Linked DNA regions of Homo sapiens. The protein of the gene in region 1 interacts with the protein of each later gene in a biochemical or structural test. Each region holds a gene or a part of one and is shown on either strand. Other genes may lie near its edges. The genes, in order: MEGF10 and GULP1.

Region 1 (3,932 bases):
TTAACCTCAAAGACTGAAATAGTTTTTAAACAAGCTAGAATGGCAAGAGAAAATGTAGAATTTTTAGTGTGGTCAGTTACTACAGCAAACACACAAACATGTGTGACTGACATCAAGAAAGTGACCAGAGGTGGTCCTTGGTAGAGCTTAAGTCTTTGGGGAACAAAAGATTCAGTTTGCTGAGGAAACACTCATATTTCATTTAAAAGAAATATGGCTTATGGGGAGACGGAAACATATAAAGGGAAATAGCCGGGACAATAAGAAAAGATCCACATGGTTACATGTTGACCAAGTTCTGCTGTTCAGGATGGGTGTGCATGATTAGATGCCTAGTACAGAGCTTTTACTAGGAGTCCTCCCAGCACAAATGCCTTCTTGTCATGATAATAGAGCCCTCTTGGTGCTCCTGGGGCCATCAACAGCTGGTTTCTTGATTGAACTTCTGTAAATTTTCTATTAATAAAACAAAACGTAATTGATTATATTCTAATGTGATCATAAAAATGAAATCAGTTAATGATATTGATGTCAGTACTCATCTTGGAGAGGAGCTAAAACTACTTTAGGGATGGGTCATTTTATAGCAGATTCTCTCCAAAACAAGTGGAAAAGGTACAGTATTATTTTCAGTGTGTAGAATTATGGAAACCTAGCTATAAAGAAAAACAGTAAAATATCACCAAGAAATGATGTTGCCAGTGACACAGCATTAGCTTTCTCTTCTCATTTCTCTTCACAGACCTGGGAAAGAATTCTGAATATAATTCAAGTAACTGCTCCCTAAGCAGTTCTGAGAACCCATATGCCACTATTAAAGACCCACCTGTACTTATCCCGAAAAGCTCAGAGTGTGGTTATGTGGAGATGAAATCGCCGGCACGAAGAGATTCCCCATATGCAGAGATCAATAACTCAACTTCAGCCAACAGGAATGTCTATGAAGTTGGTGAGTTCCCTTAACCATAGAAAGAACCGAGTGCTTAAGTTTTTAAAAACAATTTTAAAGTCTTTACGAATATAATAGTTGCAGGTCATAGAAATCTTATTGAAAATAATGGTCCGTATTTTATTTTATTTTATTTTATTTTATGTATTTTTTGAGATGGGGTCTCTCTGTCACCCAGGTGGTGTGCAGTGGCACAGTCTTGGCTCACTGCAACCTCTACCTCCCGGGCTCAAGCCATCCTCCCACTTCAGCCTCCCAAGTAGCTGGGACCACAGGCACGCACTACCACGCCCAGCTAATTTTTTGTATTTTGGGTAGAGACGGGGTTTTGTCACCATATTTTATTAATAGATGCGACCTGTGTTTTTAGCGATCATATTAATTGGTGCCAAAGGAATTTTCCAGGGAAAATATTATTTAGAAAAATTTAAGGTAAAGTTTCTTTATTTTTCACCTAATCATCCATCTTTTGTTTTGTAACCATAGTGAATATTTTGGCACACATGTGGATAGCATATGTATCATATTAGCTAATATATCTACTTAGCCGAAACAAATGGTTCAAGTGGATTAAACAGGTGATTCCATTTCCTGGTTCATTATATTAATATAATGCATTTAGCAAGATTGAAACATTTTACTTTTAAACTTGTCCAAAAGAGCAGTAATATTCTCTGATGTGAATGTGATGCAAATTAATATGAATTCAATTTAAAATTGGAGTTATTTTGATTGTCTTTTGCAGATACCACTTGGGAAATGATAAAACATTCCACCACTACTCTTGGCTAAACAATAGGGCTATATATTTTCATTTCTCTCTCTCTCTCTGTCTCTATTTCTATGTCTCTCTGAGTATTTATGATTTTAACTTTAAAATATTCTCTACTACTTGTAAATGAAGTGCCTACTTTACTACTAGTAATTTATTTTATGCCAGATACATCCCTGGGAAAAAATATACAAAATAATTTATTTTTAAAGTATTAAGACAGCTTTTTAAAATGCAAGTCAAAGTGAACTAAATTTATTTTTGGAAAGTCAGTAACAATTCTCCTTTAAACTGTCCCACAAACCTGCCACAGTAGGATGGGAACTCAAATGAGAGCCTGAGTCTTGAGTCCTAAAGTTCTGAACATGTTGAGTGTTTTCATGAACTGAATTAACGTTTGAGAATGTCAGTCTTCTCACCTGTGGAATAAGGGGCTTGGCCTACCTTATCCCCAAGGTGTTTTTCAGACCATGATTTATTTCCAGGATTCTGTATATTCCCTTAATATCTTCATCCCGATTATGTGGTCCTCCTTTTGTTCTGAACACCATTTGTGTTTGCCAGTTGATCCAACTACACAGAGTTGCCACCTGTATGTGATGATTTTTAAAATCATGTTTTTAAAACCAGCATTTCCTTATATTTTTTTAAAAGTCCCTTTGGTGTGTTTGACATTTGCAAGAAATGCCATATTCTTTTTAAAAACATTTCCTTTGCTGATAAATTAATATGTCCTTGGTTATCACAGAACCTACAGTGAGTGTTGTCCAAGGAGTATTCAGCAATAATGGGCGTCTCTCCCAGGATCCATATGACCTCCCAAAGAACAGTCACATCCCTTGTCATTATGACCTGCTGCCAGTCCGAGACAGTTCATCCTCCCCTAAGCAAGAGGACAGTGGTGGTAGCAGCAGCAACAGCAGCAGCAGCAGTGAATGACACCAAAGGACCGCTTGGTAGCCACTGGAACCCTTTCCAGAACTGCTGTTTGGTTCTTCTCCATCCTCAATTTTGCCACTTTCATGTGAATGTTAGTCAATTCGGTGGGCAATTTTTGGACATGAACCAGAAAGCTGAAAGCTGAGGCTGACACGGACTGTAGGTGCTTTTTGTTCAGGTGGATTCGAAGGAGTTAGAGATGTGATTTCCCATTGCTGTTAGTTTTAGAACTATACCCGTGAAGCATGACTTATTGTAAGATGTTGGCTGAAAGCATGAACTTGCAGAACTCCCTCGGAGACGCAGGTTGCAGTGGACATTGGGATTGTTGCTTGAAAAATTAAAATTTGAATATTTTCTCTCTCATTTGCATCATACAGCTCTACCTAGGATTGTACAGTTTACCATAAAATTTACTTCATGAAAGTGGGAATCACTGAACATGTAGAAGACAAGGAACATATTGTTAACTCCTGATTCTTAACTTTATTCAACTGGACTCAGAATTGTAGGGATAATATGAATGCAGGAGGAAACATTCTGTCAGGCGGTATGACTGGACAGACTTTGAATATACTCTAAAAGTGGACAGAAAATTTACGAAAATCTTAGATTTTGTTTAGAATGAGAAAATATACAATTAGAATTATTTTAGAAATAGTAGGAAGTATTGCAGAAGTCAATACACAAATGTGCCAGGCAGAGGTGGTTTTCTCTGTTTGACTCTCAACCAACTTCAGATCTATGACATTATTCTGATCACTGGCTCCATCATACATATTCACCACTTGAGATTCATAACATATCAATAGTTATTTCATAAATATAGAAATGAAATAATTTTATTTTTGACAGACTGGATGGAATGAGTGTGTAATGATTGATAAAGGTTGTAAATTTTAAATGCAAGATGACGCTTACGTTCTGTAAACCATTAGTAATACATGCTGTAATATAGAATTAGTGGAACATTTTGATTAATCTTTCCCTAGAAGTGACTGAAATATTTTTGTGCATATTTGAGAAAGGGAACTTTCCTTTTATTAATTGTCAATTTAGAGAAACTATGCTTAAGCTGGTCTTTTGCATTGCTAATGTGACATGTACCCAACTTTTCATTAATTTGTATTTCCATTTTTAAATTGCATATTCTATGTTTTGTAGTGTTTGGATTGTTAATGAAAAAATATTATATGTTCGTTATTCCTTGTATTATTGCCACTTATCTTTTGCTTGATAAAAATGCGTTGTTCTTTTTTCTTTTGGAGGGAC
Region 2 (3,932 bases), on another chromosome or scaffold:
TGATGTTCAGACCTAGTACACTGCTTGCTTGTTATTCATTATCTCTCTGATTTATTTGAGATCCTTGTCAATCACCTCTTCCCATCACCCAAAAAGTCTTACAATTTGGAGCTCCTCATGACTATAGAAAGGGCATGATGACTAGAGTCAGACTGTTTTGAATTTTGAATCTGCTTTCTACCTCATACAAGTCACAAAGAATCTGTGGACCTTAATTCCCATGTATTTATTGTAATAAGGACATAATATCACTACTACTGATACTTCAAATAATGTTTTGAGGATTAAATATAAAATGTATGTTGTAATCCCTTTTGAAAATTCTACACAACCATAACTTTATGTACAAGAGTTTACTCCTAGTTCTGTAACTGTTCTCTCATTACTATCCTTCCTTTTTCCATTTCATTACAGAAGCCCTCTCCAAAATAAATCTTCAGGCTTTCTTCATGTTTCTCTCCATTACCTTCCTCTTAGGTCCCGATGAATGCAATATTCTATTTAAAATACCAAAAAATGTAATATTTCAGTAAAAAAAAGATCAAATTAAGCAATCCAGAATCTAAGGACTATCACATAGGAAAATCAACTCTAACTCTATGTTTTAATTTTAGAAAAGTTACTGTGAAATGATCTTATCATCTTAACAAAACACCATTTTACAAATAAATTTCAAGTATACTTTCTCCTTTCCTCCATGCCTGCCCTCTTAGGATATTTCTTTTTCTGTCATTCCTTTACAGCTGCTGCACAATATGTCTGATCATGAACAACATGTGTTTCAGAGATGCTCATCCTCTTTCTGGCGTAGTAATGGTGATTCATCTCCCTGTCTCAATATTTCTTCCATCTCTGTCACTCCTATCAACTCGCCTGATTCCAGACTATCACTGGGACTGTTAATACCACCACCTTCTAAATGTGGCTTTCCCAAGCCAGTCAGTGAGAGCAGCATCCCAAGACCTCATGTAATTTGCTAAGCAGATAATTCTTTTTTATTATCCCACTTATTTTGCTTAAATTCTGCCAAAATGTGCTATTTGTAAAGTTATCAAAAATTTAGATGTATCTTGAGTCAATGTGATGTGATCTGGAGCCTTTGTGTGCCATTGTTGTTTTCTTTGATTACCTGATACCAGAAAGTTTCAAGTAGAGGGTGGTGACAGTGTAGAAATTTACATACAGATACTTCAAAGGATCTATCAGATGTTGCAGTTGGGAAATTAGATCATTGGTAAGAGCAATTTCAGCAGAGTTCAGTGCAAAAAGAACAAATCTAGATTGATAAGAGTTAAAGATAGAATGAAGTAAATCTTAGGACAGAAAGTGTAGTATCTCTTTCAAGGAGCTTAGCCTTGAAGGAAAAAGAAAAACAGAATAGAGGCTGGAAGATTAAAGAGGGACAGAGTAAATAAATTTTTGATTGATTTGTTTTGCTTTTAATGACAGCCAAGATTTTAGAATTTTTGTATCGTGAAAAAGAGTAGAGATATAGAAGTGAGAGGGGATACAGGAATGGGATAATTAGGGGAATGGTATTGCTGAGTAACAGTAAAGGGGTGAGGGGATACAATAAACAAATTGTTAAAGAAAGGGGGATGACAGCAATTTTCCTGCATGAAAAATAATGTACTAGCAATTATTTTAGCTGAATAGCAAACCCATCATTCTCTACACACAATAAGCCTGATTTTTTCATCACCTGCACTACCTGTGAATCAGAAAATTAAACGTATTCTGAGAATTCTAATTTTAATATGAACTACTGGAAGCAATCTCTGTCCAAGTTCTCACAGGAAAAGCAAATTTTTCGCCACTATTCCCCCAAAATGGAAATTCTCTTTTATCCCTGATCAAATCAGATGGTTTTCAAAGGAGATTATACATATATACATATTGTTCCCTGTTTTACAAAGTGATAAATGTCTAATTTTGATATTACTTCTTGGCTACATTTTCATGAGATTTTCATTTATCTTTCCCTATATGTGTTCAGTCCTGGCCCAGACTGTATCAGAAAACTCAATGATTTGGGCAGTACACTGGCGATTATTAATTTAGTTTATAAGATTGCTATTTATTACAGAAAACTTGATGAAATCTTTCAGGAGTAAAATGTACTGCAATGAATATCAGTTGGTTCCCATTGTTGATATAAATACAAACTAAAATATACTCTACTTTTGAGAATGCAAAAAAAATCAATTGCATTTGAATGTTTATATTTAAGAAGGCAGGTCACTTATGTCTAATTATTCCAGTTTAAAATGTAATCTTATGCAGCGTATCTTACTGAAATCATATTTTTACATGAATAGTTTCTAATATATCTAATTCTCTGTTACAAGTAGCAGTCATTTCTATATATCCCAAAAATTCACTGTATCTTTTATATTCATCTGGAATAATATTGTCACCGTTTTTGCCATCATCTTTGAGAGCATTTTTACAGAAATTTTCTATTGCTTTCTTCTAAATGAGCATTTATCATAATTAGTGGAACCATATGAAATTGCGAATACTTAACTATTTTTGGTCTACAAAATGGCAAATTCTTATGATGCAACTGAAATTGTTGTTTACATATATTTTATATGCATATGAAATATTTAGCATTACAATGTGTCTATATGAAATATTACCCTAATTCATTTATTTTCATTGCAGGCAGGCAGTATGACACCTAAGTCGCCCTCCACTGACATCTTTGATATGATTCCATTTTCTCCAATATCACACCAGTCTTCGATGCCTACTCGCAATGGCACACAGCCACCTCCAGTACCTAGTAGATCTACTGAGATTAGTAAGCTTTCTCAACAAATCAAAGTTTCTTGTTATAGTTGCATACATTTTAAATATATAATTAAGACTTTGTGGGAAATTACATATCTTAACAACCTTACTTACAATTTTAATTATTAAAGTATTATTTTTATATTTGTATAAATTTCCATTAATTCTATTTTACTTTATAATTCAGACTACACTACTAATGACATCTCTGCTTGCAACTTTTACCTATTGTGTGAACAATTATGTTTTGGTGTATTACTTCATATTTAATTATATATCACTGTTTTGGGTTATATTTTTAATATTTTACTTTAACTTTTAAAAATAACTGGTGGTAATTAAATTGATCATTTTTTACATGTTTAATAGAGCTGGTTAAAATATTTTTGTTATCATAGGGTTTATGGACTTTTTTGTTAAAAAATATATAAATTATATCATGATTTCTTAACCTTTTGTAAGGGTTCTTTCCTATCTAAAATGCTATAAATTCATTGCTTTTCTGTTTTATCTTTTATATATCTGGAAGGAATATTAAAGTCTCTTTTTGATGAATTAGAAAACACCTATAAGCCTGTAAAATAAAAAGCAAGTTAGTTACTTGTAAAATACAATGAGCATACAGGCATTGGGTGAACGTTTCCATTCCAAATTGGAGAAATTGGCAAAGCGAAGGAGCCACAGGCCCCTTGCAAGTTTGAAACCCGGTGGGGCAGTCATTAAATCTTAAAGCTCCAAAATTATCTCATTTTACTCCATGTGTCACATCCAGGGCATGCTAATGCAAGGGATGGACCCCAAGGCCTTGGGCAGCTCCACCTCTGTGGCTCTGCAGGGTACAGCCCCCATAGCTGTTTTCACAGGCTGGCATTGAGTGACAGGCACACAGTGCAAGCTGTTGGTGGATCTACCATTCGGGGGTCTGAAAGACAGTGGCCCTCTTCTCACAGCTCCACTAGGCAGTGCCCCAGTGGGGACTCTGTGTGGGGGCTTTAACCCTACATTTCTCCTCTGCATTGCCCTAGTAGAGGTTCTCCATGAGGGCTCTGCTCCTGCCACAGACTTCTGCCTGAACATTCAGGCGTTTCCATACATCCTCCGAAATCTAGGCAGAGGCTCCCAAAGCTCAACTCTTG

Evidence for each region.
Region 2: the proteins of MEGF10 (region 1) and GULP1 form a complex in vitro, tested with the Homo sapiens proteins (one study listed by BioGRID).

Annotation. Positions count from the first base shown.
Region 1 is NC_000005.10:127,454,659-127,458,590, forward strand, and holds part of MEGF10 (multiple epidermal growth factor-like domains protein 10 isoform a precursor), read left to right. Parts: intron 1-742; coding exon 743-949; intron 950-2,469; coding exon 2,470-2,660; 3' UTR 2,661-3,932. UniProt on the Homo sapiens protein: Membrane receptor involved in phagocytosis by macrophages and astrocytes of apoptotic cells. Receptor for C1q, an eat-me signal, that binds phosphatidylserine expressed on the surface of apoptotic cells. Cooperates with ABCA1 within the process of engulfment.
Region 2 is NC_000002.12:188,581,598-188,585,529, forward strand, and holds part of GULP1 (PTB domain-containing engulfment adapter protein 1), read left to right. Parts: intron 1-743; coding exon of another isoform or gene 744-968; intron 969-2,667; coding exon 2,668-2,806; intron 2,807-3,932. UniProt on the Homo sapiens protein: May function as an adapter protein. Required for efficient phagocytosis of apoptotic cells. Modulates cellular glycosphingolipid and cholesterol transport. May play a role in the internalization and endosomal trafficking of various LRP1 ligands, such as PSAP.